Linked DNA regions of Homo sapiens. The protein of the gene in region 2 purifies or fractionates together with the protein of the main gene of each other region. This does not show direct contact. Each region holds a gene or a part of one and is shown on either strand. Other genes may lie near its edges.

Region 1 (4,501 bases), on a different chromosome or scaffold from region 2:
CCATCTCTGCTGGGAAAGCCACTCAAAGTTTGTAACGCTTTGTGACCGCAGCCACAGGATGCTAATGAAGCCACCTGACTGTCCCCTCCTGAAGGGTGGGGCCTGGGCCTTGCCCCATCTCGCATACCCGGCTCCCTGAGCATATGTGGCCCTGCGCGCAGGGGCCCCATGAGCTTGCCCGCTGCCCCTGCCTGCTTGTGCTGCCCGGGGCCAGCCTGGAAACCACCTTCCTTGGACTCACTGGTGATCAGCTCCCCCGACATCCTAGGAGGGGCCGCTGCGAGCGGTGAGGGGTAACCACCTGTGCCGGCCCCCTCCTCCCTGGCATGCCCCTCCTCTCTGCTTCCTCCTGCGTGACCTGCCCCTCAGGCCCACGGCCCCTCACTCCTCTACCCTCAGCTGCCTGCCCACTCGCTCACAGCAACTCCTGGGCAAGGCTTCATCCCACCCCCACCACCCCCAGGGACTCTGACCACTCTTCTTGTGACCCCCACTGTCCCTTGAACAGCTGTCTACCTGGAGACCCTTTGTAACACTTTAGTGCCCCTCCACAGTGAAGACTCCCTGAGTGCAGGTCTCCTGATTTACCTCGGGTTTCTGGTGCCCGGCTCAGAGTTCAGGGCACATTGGTTAAATGAGTGAATGAATGAGTGATTCCTTGTCACTTCTCTACCTGTCCCTCCACCCCAGTCTCCCCCTCACTCCATTACTCCCCAGCCCTGTCCAAACCCCTGGCTGGGGACACAGGTGATCTGTGGATTCCTTGCTGTGGCCTTCCGAGGGAGGTCGAGCGGCAAGGTTTGAACCAGAGCCCCCCCACCCGGGTCTTGGCTTTCTTAGGAGTGTGGGGAGTTGGCATCAGATGATAGGGCCAGGAACGCCGGGGTGAACCTTGGTCAATCCTGGTATCACTAGTCTCTTTTATGAGCCCTGCCTCTGTTGCCCCAGGATGAACAGTCAGAGACACGTTGGTCTCTCACCTTGACCTTGGCCCACCTGCCACGTACATCTAGGGACAATGGCTGTTGCCAGCACAGACAGGCGGGAAGCCAAGGGCTGAGGCTTGCATATGTGCGTGGCTGGCGCCCTCCCCGCTGGACCTACCCTGATGTTGAGGCTGGCCACCACCACCTCTCCTGAGGGCGTGACGATGGGGATGTTCTCGCAGATGATCCCCTGTTCCACATCCACCACCTGGCCTGCAGAGACAGCACAGCGGGGCTGGGGTGGAGAGGGAGTGGTGGCGACCCCTCTGCATTCTGGGGAGTCTGCGTGCCCCTGGCTGCACGCCCTCATTCCCATCCCTGGCAGCATGCCAGCTGGTTCCTGACCAGCAGCCTGTGGTCCAGGGTCCCTAGGGAACACAGCCAGGTCTTCCAACAAGCTGAACTCTTCCCCCAGTGTCTAATACAGTGCCCTGGGCCGCCACTCCCTTCTGCAGCACCTGCCTCCCGTGGCAGCCAGCAGCTGGCACACTGACTGGAACTTTCTCTTGCTGTCCTGCATGGGTGAGGGGACCACATCCCCCTTGTTTTGAATGAATAATCCAGGCTGAGGCCCTCAAAGGGCGAGTCAGTACGGTGGCCGGCAGCTACTGTCTGGGAAGGAAGGCGGGCGGACCAGCACCTCTCTGCAGGAAACCCTCCAGGGGCCCAGCTCGACCAGGCCGAAGTCCTCAAAGACCCTGCCCGGCAGCCCTCCCGTCCTGGGTGGACTGGGATGGGCCAGAAGCACATGGAGGTCCCTGAGTGAGGGAGCGGGAATAGGAGGAGCTGGGGCAGCAGGTCAGCACCTGCAGCAGCAGCAGGGGCGGGGTCACTCATAGGGAGGGGACAGCCTTACCTCGGATCTTCAGGGGGCCCTCCACACGGACACCAGACCGGCCTATGGTCCCAGACCCCGCCTGAGCGTCCTCTAGCTCCCTGGGCCTCTTGAAGTGACAGCGCTGAACATCTTCAAATACCTGGAACATCTCGTGCACCCGGGCTGTGTAGCCAGCCAGCTCCGTCACCTGAGGGAGGGTGACCCTGGCTCAGCCCCTGCCAGTTGCAGGGAGAGAAGCATGGCAAGGATGGCAAGGGTGGGGCTGGGCCAGGGGTACCTCCTTGTACGACGACATGATCCGCTCAATGGCATCTGCAGCCGCTGTCAGGAGGTTGCGGGCAATAGTGAAGGCTTCTGTGCGCTCGCTCACCAGCTCCTCCTCCTTCTTTTCCAAGGCTGCCTTCTTCACGGCCTCTGCATCTGCAAAGCCCCAGAGGGGTGGGTGGCGGGGCGGGGAGGGGCAGGGCAGAGACAGCGGAAAGTCAAAAATGAGCCGCTGGAGAGAAAGGCGAGGCTCTTCTGCAAATGGTGCCGGGGCAACCAGCTCTCTCTCTCTTTCTCTCTATGTGCAGGAGAGGGACCCCTCACACCATACAGACAAACCAACCCAGAGCACATCACAGGCTGATGTGTAGTGTGGCCCAAAGTATGAAACTCTCAGAAGAAAATGGGATAAAACTTCACGACCTTGGATATGGCAATAGTTCCTTCACTAGGACACCAAAAGCATGAGCAACAAGAGAAAAACAGATCAACTGAACCTCATTCAACTCAACACTTTTGTGCACCAAAGGACAATATCGAGACAGTGAAAAAGACAACCTACAGACTGGGAGAAAACTCTGGACTGGTGAACCACACATCTGATGAGGGTGCAGTATCCAGAATATACAAAGAGCTTTTACAACTCAGCGACAGAGATAACCCGATCACACATGGGCGAAGGACGTGAACAGACATTTCTCCAAAGAAGACATACAAATGGCCACTCAACACATCAAAAGAGGCTCAGCGTCATTAGTCATCAGGGAAATGCAAATCAAAACCACCAAGAGATACTGCCTCACACCCACTAGGTGGCTAGAATACAAAGGAGATGATAACCAGTGCTAGCCACGATGAAAAGGTGGAACCCTCCAACACTGCTGGCGGGAAGGTAAAATGGGGCAGCCACTGTGGAGAACAGTCTCGCAGCTCCTCAAAAAGTGAAACGTCCAGTTACCATGTGACCTGGCAATTCTACTCCTAGCTACACACCCAGGAGAAACGAAAATATCTGCACACATAGAGACTTGTCCATGGATGTTCACAGCAGTGTTATTCACAATAGCCAAAACATGAAGAAACCCAAAATGTCCATCAAGGGATGAATGGATAAAGAAATTGTGGTCTATGCACACAATGGAATATTATTCAGCCATGAAAAGGAATGAAGGACTGATTCATCTTATGACATGGACGAATCTTGAAACCATGATGCTCAGTGAAGGAAGCTAGTCACAAAATGCCACAGAGCACATGATTCCATTTCTAGGACATGTCCAGATAGGCAAATCCACAGAGACAGGAAGCAGATGAGTGGGTGCCAGGGGCTGGAGAGAGGGAATGAGGAGTGACTGTTCATGGGTCTGGGGTTTCTTTGGGGGATAAAATAAAAATAAAACATTCTGGAGTTAGTGATGATGGCTGCACAACTCTGTGAATGAATTTAAACTGTACATGGAAAAGGAAGAATTGTATAGTATGTTAATTACGTCTCAATAACGTTGATTTTTAAATGCACCAGTAGGCATCTGGTTTTGTTTCTACGTACAGCCAGCTCCTTCCACCGGCCCTCTGTCCTGCACCACTGATGTCGCCCCTCCTGGGGCACATCTGAACTTTGTCATCCAACGCCCAGAGCTGTTTGGCTTTGAAACGCCAACTTTCTTTTTTTTTTCTTTTCTTTTTTTTGAGATGGAGTCTTGCTCTGTTGCCCAGGCTGGAGTGCAGTGGTGTGATCTTGGCTCACTGCAACCTCTGCCTCCCCAGGTTCAAGGGATTCTTGTGCCTCAGCCTCCCGAGTAGCTGGGATTACAGGCACCCGCCACCAAGCCCAGCGAATTTTTTTTGTATTTTTAGTAGAGACGAAGTCTCACCATGTTGGCCAGGCTGGTCTCAAACTCCTGAACTCAGGTGATCCACTTGCCTTGGCCTCCAAAGATGCTGGGATTGCAGGCATGGGCCACCACGCCCGGCCTAATGTCCCACTTCCTGACCGCCCCCTCTAGGCCATGGTTTTTGACCTCTGGGCCAGCAGCCGTATTGTTTGGTGTCTGCTTCTCCCAGGAGCTGCTCCTGTCTTAATTTGCTTTTCTGTCACACTCTAGGCCCCGTGGCAGCACCCCTGACCCTCATCAATGGCCTTGACTCTCAGTTTCTTGATCCTTAGATTCCCCACAGGAGCAGAGGTGGGGAGCAAGGGCGAAGGCCGCCTCTGAGGGTGCTGGGGTGTGGCTGAAGTGGTGGGAATGTCCTGTGAAGGACCCGAGGACTGTATCCAGGGGTGGGTGTGATCCTGAGGGGGAAGCCTCAGGGATCATTGGCTGGGGGCTGGGGGAAGACACGGAACGCAGTATCCGCTCAGGGCCATGCAGGGTGGAAAGGGGCCTGGCCCGGGAAACCAGGGAACTAGATT
Region 2 (5,548 bases):
CCAGCCTAGCTAACTTCGTGAAACCCTGTCTCTACTAAAAATACAAAAATTGGCCAGGCACAGTGGTGTGCATACCTGTAAACCCAGTTACTCAGGAGGCTGAGGCATGAGCATTGCTTGAACCTGAGAGTCAGAGGTTGCAGTGAGCTAAGGTTGCAGTGAGCTAAGATCACGCCACTGCACTCCAGCCTGGGGGACAGAACAAGACTCTATCTCAAAGTAATAATAATAATAAATAAAAGTTTTTTCTACAAATGTCGGGTATTGCTTTTATGAAATGGAAACTATGTTCACTATTTTTTAAAGGAACTCAACAGGGCAACAGAATAATTAAAATTCCAACTCTCAGTAAACCCTATTTATCCTTCCCCAACTAAGTTTGCTCAAGACAGTAAATAAATAAAAGGTGACCTAACATTATTACATGGATACTATAATTCATTTCGAAGTCATCAATAACAGGAAGGGCACAATTTACTAAGATTCTTACAAATCACTTTCATTCTTCAAGTACTTGTAATAGTTATGAGATCACAGCATCCTACAATTCACAGGTCAAGTACTGGATTGCTTCTAGCTTGTTATAAAACTTTAAAAGGAAGGAAACTACCATGATTTGGTTTCCACATGATGTTACATTGGCACAGCCTTGAGTGTTTTAATAGGTACAGCTACTACCACTCACCCCCAAAACCAGAGCAAGCGATTTTGACAAGTGATTTGAAAAAACACTGCTTTGTTCTCTGCCTAATTTCATTTCCCCAGGTTCAGGCAGGAAGTCAGGTTCTTAGTAATTCTTTGTCTCAGTATTTTGTTTTCACAAGGCAGAAAGTAGCATTTTTCTGGGGGTAGGTATATCTTAGTCTCAGGAATGGGATTGCAAAGGTTTGAAACAGACACACTCCTGTATCCCCAGATAAAGAATCAATGGGTCCATATTTCATGACATCCAAGAAACCATCAATTATAAGCAGTATCCTGATTCAGATATTAAAACATGAACAAAAACTACCCATTATAATCAATAAAACACAGTACGTTATTTAAGGTGATCATTAACATTTGGAATTTTTTTAAAGTATTTTTAGTTTAAAAGGCTCATACTACTGATGACAGTTTCAACCAGTAGAACTTTGGGGAAGATAACTTCAGACTATGTCACAAAACCCTTAGATTTATATACCCTTTAGCCCAACAATTCTACCTCAAGGAACTTTTCCTCAAGAAAAGCACTGGACAAATGTGGAAAGACAGACAAAGAAAAAGATTGCTACAGCACTGGTTATGCTAGTAAACCCTAGAAACACATTAGTTTTAAAATAGAAAACTGGGGAAACCAGGTATGGTACTTCTTTACGACAGAAAACGGTAATAATTCAAAAGGTCCAAGACCCTGAAAAATGTTCACGGCATAGTAAAAGCAAACAGCATATCACAGATCAGTTAGAAAAAAATCATGAGAAAATATATGCAAAGAAAAAAGTATAAAAGGAGTTTTAGAAAGAACTGAGAAAATGGAAAGAGAAAATTCGAATTAAACAAAAAATCTTCTGGCCGCAACGGCTCATGCCTGCAATCCCAGTGTTTTTGGAGGCCTAAGGAGGAGAACTGCTTGAGGCCAGGAGCTCAAGGCTAGCCTAGGCAACACAGTGAGACCCCCGTTTCTAAACAAAAAATTAGCTGAGAATTGGCAGTGCATGTCTGTAATCCCAGTTCCTCAGGAGACTGTGGCGGGAGGACTGTTCGAGCCCAGGAGTTCCAGGTTGCAGTGAGCTATGATTGTGCCACTGCACTCTCCAGCCTGGGTGACACAGTGAGACTCTGTCTCAAAAAAACTCCTTAGGTAAGATCTTGGTTGGTGTGCAGGGCAAGTGCAGGTGGTTCTGCAGCCAGAAACTATCAAACCTTCTAGCTCCCTGGACCTGACCTTCCACAGCTCCCTCTCCTCACGTACTTGTCAGGGCGGCGCAGGGGGCAGCTATGTTGATCAGGAGTGAATTCAAAGTTGGTCTACCATGAACTGGAAGATGCTTGAATACTCATCCCTGCTGCTATAATATCTTGGCAGAGAAACCATTAATTCTCTGTCTGGCATTTGCTGGAGTTAAAATATACCAAAGGAAAAGGCTGGAAGCAAAACAGCAAAACTGGAAGCTGAAGAGAGGCATCAATGAGAGAAGGAGATAACTGAAGAGTAATCCAGGGTATTTTGCTAAGCATTTCATGCACAGCTGTGTTGTTTGGGTCCTGACAACTCTATGAGATACTTTCGAATTGAAAGAATGGCTCACACTGTACATGGTGAAGAGCAGAACCAGAAACTGAACACAGGTCAAATGCATTCAACCACAGTGAGCTGTACTGCCTTCCTGAATTCACAATGTAAAAGTCAGTCTGAGTGGACTGCAGCTGAGAAGAGAAGACAATTATCCAAAAATGTGTCCGAGGATACACTCCCAACCTATACTTTTAAAAGAATGTGATTTTTTTTTTTTTTTTTTTTGAGACAGGGTCTCACAATGTTACCCAGGTTGGAATGCAGTGGCGCAATCCCAGCTCACTGCAACCTCGACCTCCTGGGGTCAAATGATCCTTCTGCCTCAGCCTCCCGAGTAGCTGAGACTACAGATGCCCAGCACCATGCTGGGCTAATTTTTGTATTTTCAGTAGAGATGGGTTTTCGCCATGTTGGCTGGGCTGGTCTCAAACTCCTGGGCTCAGGCAATCTGCTGGCCTCAGCCTCCCAAAGTGCTGGGACTGCAGGTGTGAACCACCACGCCTGACCAACAATGTATAAATGTTTATTTTTATAAACTTTTAAGAGAGCTATCATTTTATTTTGGTTAGGTGAGGTGGCTCACACCTGTAATCCCAGCACTTTGGGAGGCTGAGACAGGTGGATCACTTGAGGTCAGGAATTCGAGACCAGCCCAGCCAACATGGCGAAACCCTGTCTCTATGAAAAATACAAAAATTAGGTAGGCTTGGTGGTGCACGCCTATAATCCCAGCTACTTGGGAGGCTAAGGCACCAGAATTGCCTGAACCCAGGAGGCAGAGGTTGCAGTGAGCTGGGATTGCACTACTGCAATTCCAGCCTGAGTGACATTATGAGACCCACTGCACTCCAGCCTGGGCAACTGAACCAGACTCTGTCTCAAAAAAAAAAAAAAATTGTATTTTGTTTACTAAAATACCTTTGTAAAAATGGGGAGGAGTCTCCTGAAACTTACGTGAATTTTCCTTATTTGAGAGAACACACCAGGTGCCCAGTACACTGGGAGAAAACACACTCATATGAAGGCACATCATTGTGATATTTTAGATCTCTGGGAAAAAGAAGGTTCAACACATTTCCAGAAGTCAGGGGGTAGAGGGAGATAAATAATTGAAATAAAAATTTTTACAGCCAGGTGCAGTGGCCCATGCCTATAATCCCAGAACTTTGGGAGGCCGAGGTGGGCAGATCACTTGAGTTCAGGAGTTCGAGACCAGCCTGAGCAACATGGCGAAACCCTGTCTCTACAAAAAATACAAAAAAATCATCCACCAGGCATGGTGGCCCATGCCTGTGGTCACAGCTGGCTTGGGAGGCTGAGGTGGGAGGATCACTTGAGCCCAGGAGGGGTAGGTTGCACTGTGATCATACCACTACACTCCAGCCTGATGACAGAGTAAGACACTGTCTCAAACAAAACAAAACAAAATTAAATCAGAATAGCTAAAGGACAATAAAAGAATACATTTTAAATTCTGAAGAAAAACATTTTCAGTCTAACACTCTCTACCTAGTTGAACTAGGAATTGTGTATAGAATCAAGCTATTCTGAAAGGTGCAAATTTCCATTTCCACATGCATGCTTTCTTAGAAAACTACAAGAGGCTGTGTGTCCCCCCAGTGGGAGCAAAGCAAGACAGAGGACACTGGACATGGGAAGCAGAGGATCCAACCCAGGAAAGAAAGGAAGAGAATCTTCAGAGTGATGGTGCAGGAGAGCCCAGTCGGCCAGCTGTGTGCAGGCCACCAGGCCAGAGGCTCCCAGAGAGGCCAGTCATGAAGACGATTCTGACAGAATACCTGATGTCTCTCAGCTTCTTGATAGGAGACTTAAACAACTAGGGTTAAATTAGTGACTAAATATCTGGAGAAATTATGAAATGAGAAAAGAGAATTACTAACACCAGGGCAAACAAGAAATTGGGCAGGAAAGGAAAAGCATTCATAGTCTACGCACTGGGTCAGTTGTAAGTGGTATTTACAGTGTCATAGGTCAACACTGGCTGCTGATCTAACCCAAATCACCTGAAGACTATACAGATGCCCCTTGACTTAACAATGAGGTTACATCCTGATAAACCCATCCTAAGTGGAAAGTATCCGAAGTCAAAAATGCATTTAATACCCCTAGCCTACCAAACATCATAGCTAAGCCTAGCCTATCTTAAACGTGCTCAGAACACTTAGGTTAGCCTACAGCTGGCAGAATCACCCAGCAGCACAGCATGCTGGAGAGGATGGGTGGTTTGCGCTGGTGATGGCATGGGTGGCTGAGAGCTGACCAGCATCATGAAAAAATATCTACCGAATATCATTAGCCTGGGAAAAGACCAAAATTCAAAATTCGAAGTATGATTTCTACTGAATGCATACTGCTTTTACAACATCTGTAAAGCTGAAAATTCCTAAGTTGAACCATCAGAAGTGTTTGGACCTATATTGGGAGACAGGAAGAGGGTATGTATAATTGGAGGCAGGGAAGAGGGCATCCCAGCTAAAGCCTCATCTTTCAGAGTAGAAAGGCAATGGATAATGTCTATGACTGGGTGGGTGAGGGAACACCAATAAACAGCATTATAAACACGTTGTTTAGAGCTCAAAGAGATGAAGACACTGGGAGAAACTTATATTTCTGCCTGTAGGACCGAATCTTTAAAATATGTGCATAAGGTGGGGCACAGTGGTTCATGCCTACAATCCCAGCACCTTAGGAGGCCAAGGCAGGAGGATTGCTTGAGCCTAGGAGTTTCAGAGCAGCCTGGGCAACACAGAGAGACCCCGTCCCTAGAAAAAAATTAAAAATTATCCAAGTGTGTTGGTGCATGCCTGTGGTCTCAGCTACTTGGGAGGCTGAGATGGGAAGATCGCTTGAGCCCAAGAGGTCAAGGCGGCAGTGAACCATGATGGTGCCACCGCACCTCAGCCTGGGAGACAGAGCAAAACCCTGTCTCAAAACAAAACAAAACAAACAAAAAAGGTGCATAATTAGCTCTGTCAAAAATAAAAACTATAGTAGTAATAAGGGTGATTTTGCTTACATGTTTTCCCATCTTTTTCAAAACGCTTAATGAAATCTAAAAGGATACATGCTAACATGTCAACAGTGATTATTTCTAGTAATGGGATTGTGGGCCACTTACATTTCTTTCACTTTTGTATTTCCTGAAAAAGCGCAGTACACAGAGCATATCGATAATAAATCAGAAAAAAACCCAAAGGCGTTATACTTCATGCCTGGCCCAAATCCACCCCAAGGTAGAAGGCCCATCTC

Evidence for each region. The genes of interacting proteins can lie anywhere in the genome.
Region 1: the proteins of CMTM8 (region 2) and ABCD1 purify together in Homo sapiens (affinity purification with mass spectrometry; one large-scale study listed by BioGRID and IntAct). This does not show direct contact.

What each region holds. Positions count from the first base shown.
Region 1 is NC_000023.11:153,733,855-153,738,355, reverse strand, and holds part of ABCD1 (ATP-binding cassette sub-family D member 1), read right to left. Parts: intron 3,505-4,501; exon of another isoform or gene 2,245-3,504; coding exon 2,102-2,244; exon of another isoform or gene 2,012-2,101; coding exon 1,843-2,011; exon of another isoform or gene 1,745-1,842; coding exon of another isoform or gene 1,445-1,744; exon of another isoform or gene 1,200-1,444; coding exon 1,105-1,199; exon of another isoform or gene 1-1,104. UniProt on the Homo sapiens protein: ATP-dependent transporter of the ATP-binding cassette (ABC) family involved in the transport of very long chain fatty acid (VLCFA)-CoA from the cytosol to the peroxisome lumen.
Region 2 is NC_000003.12:32,240,486-32,246,033, reverse strand, and holds part of CMTM8 (CKLF-like MARVEL transmembrane domain-containing protein 8), read right to left. Parts: intron 1-5,548.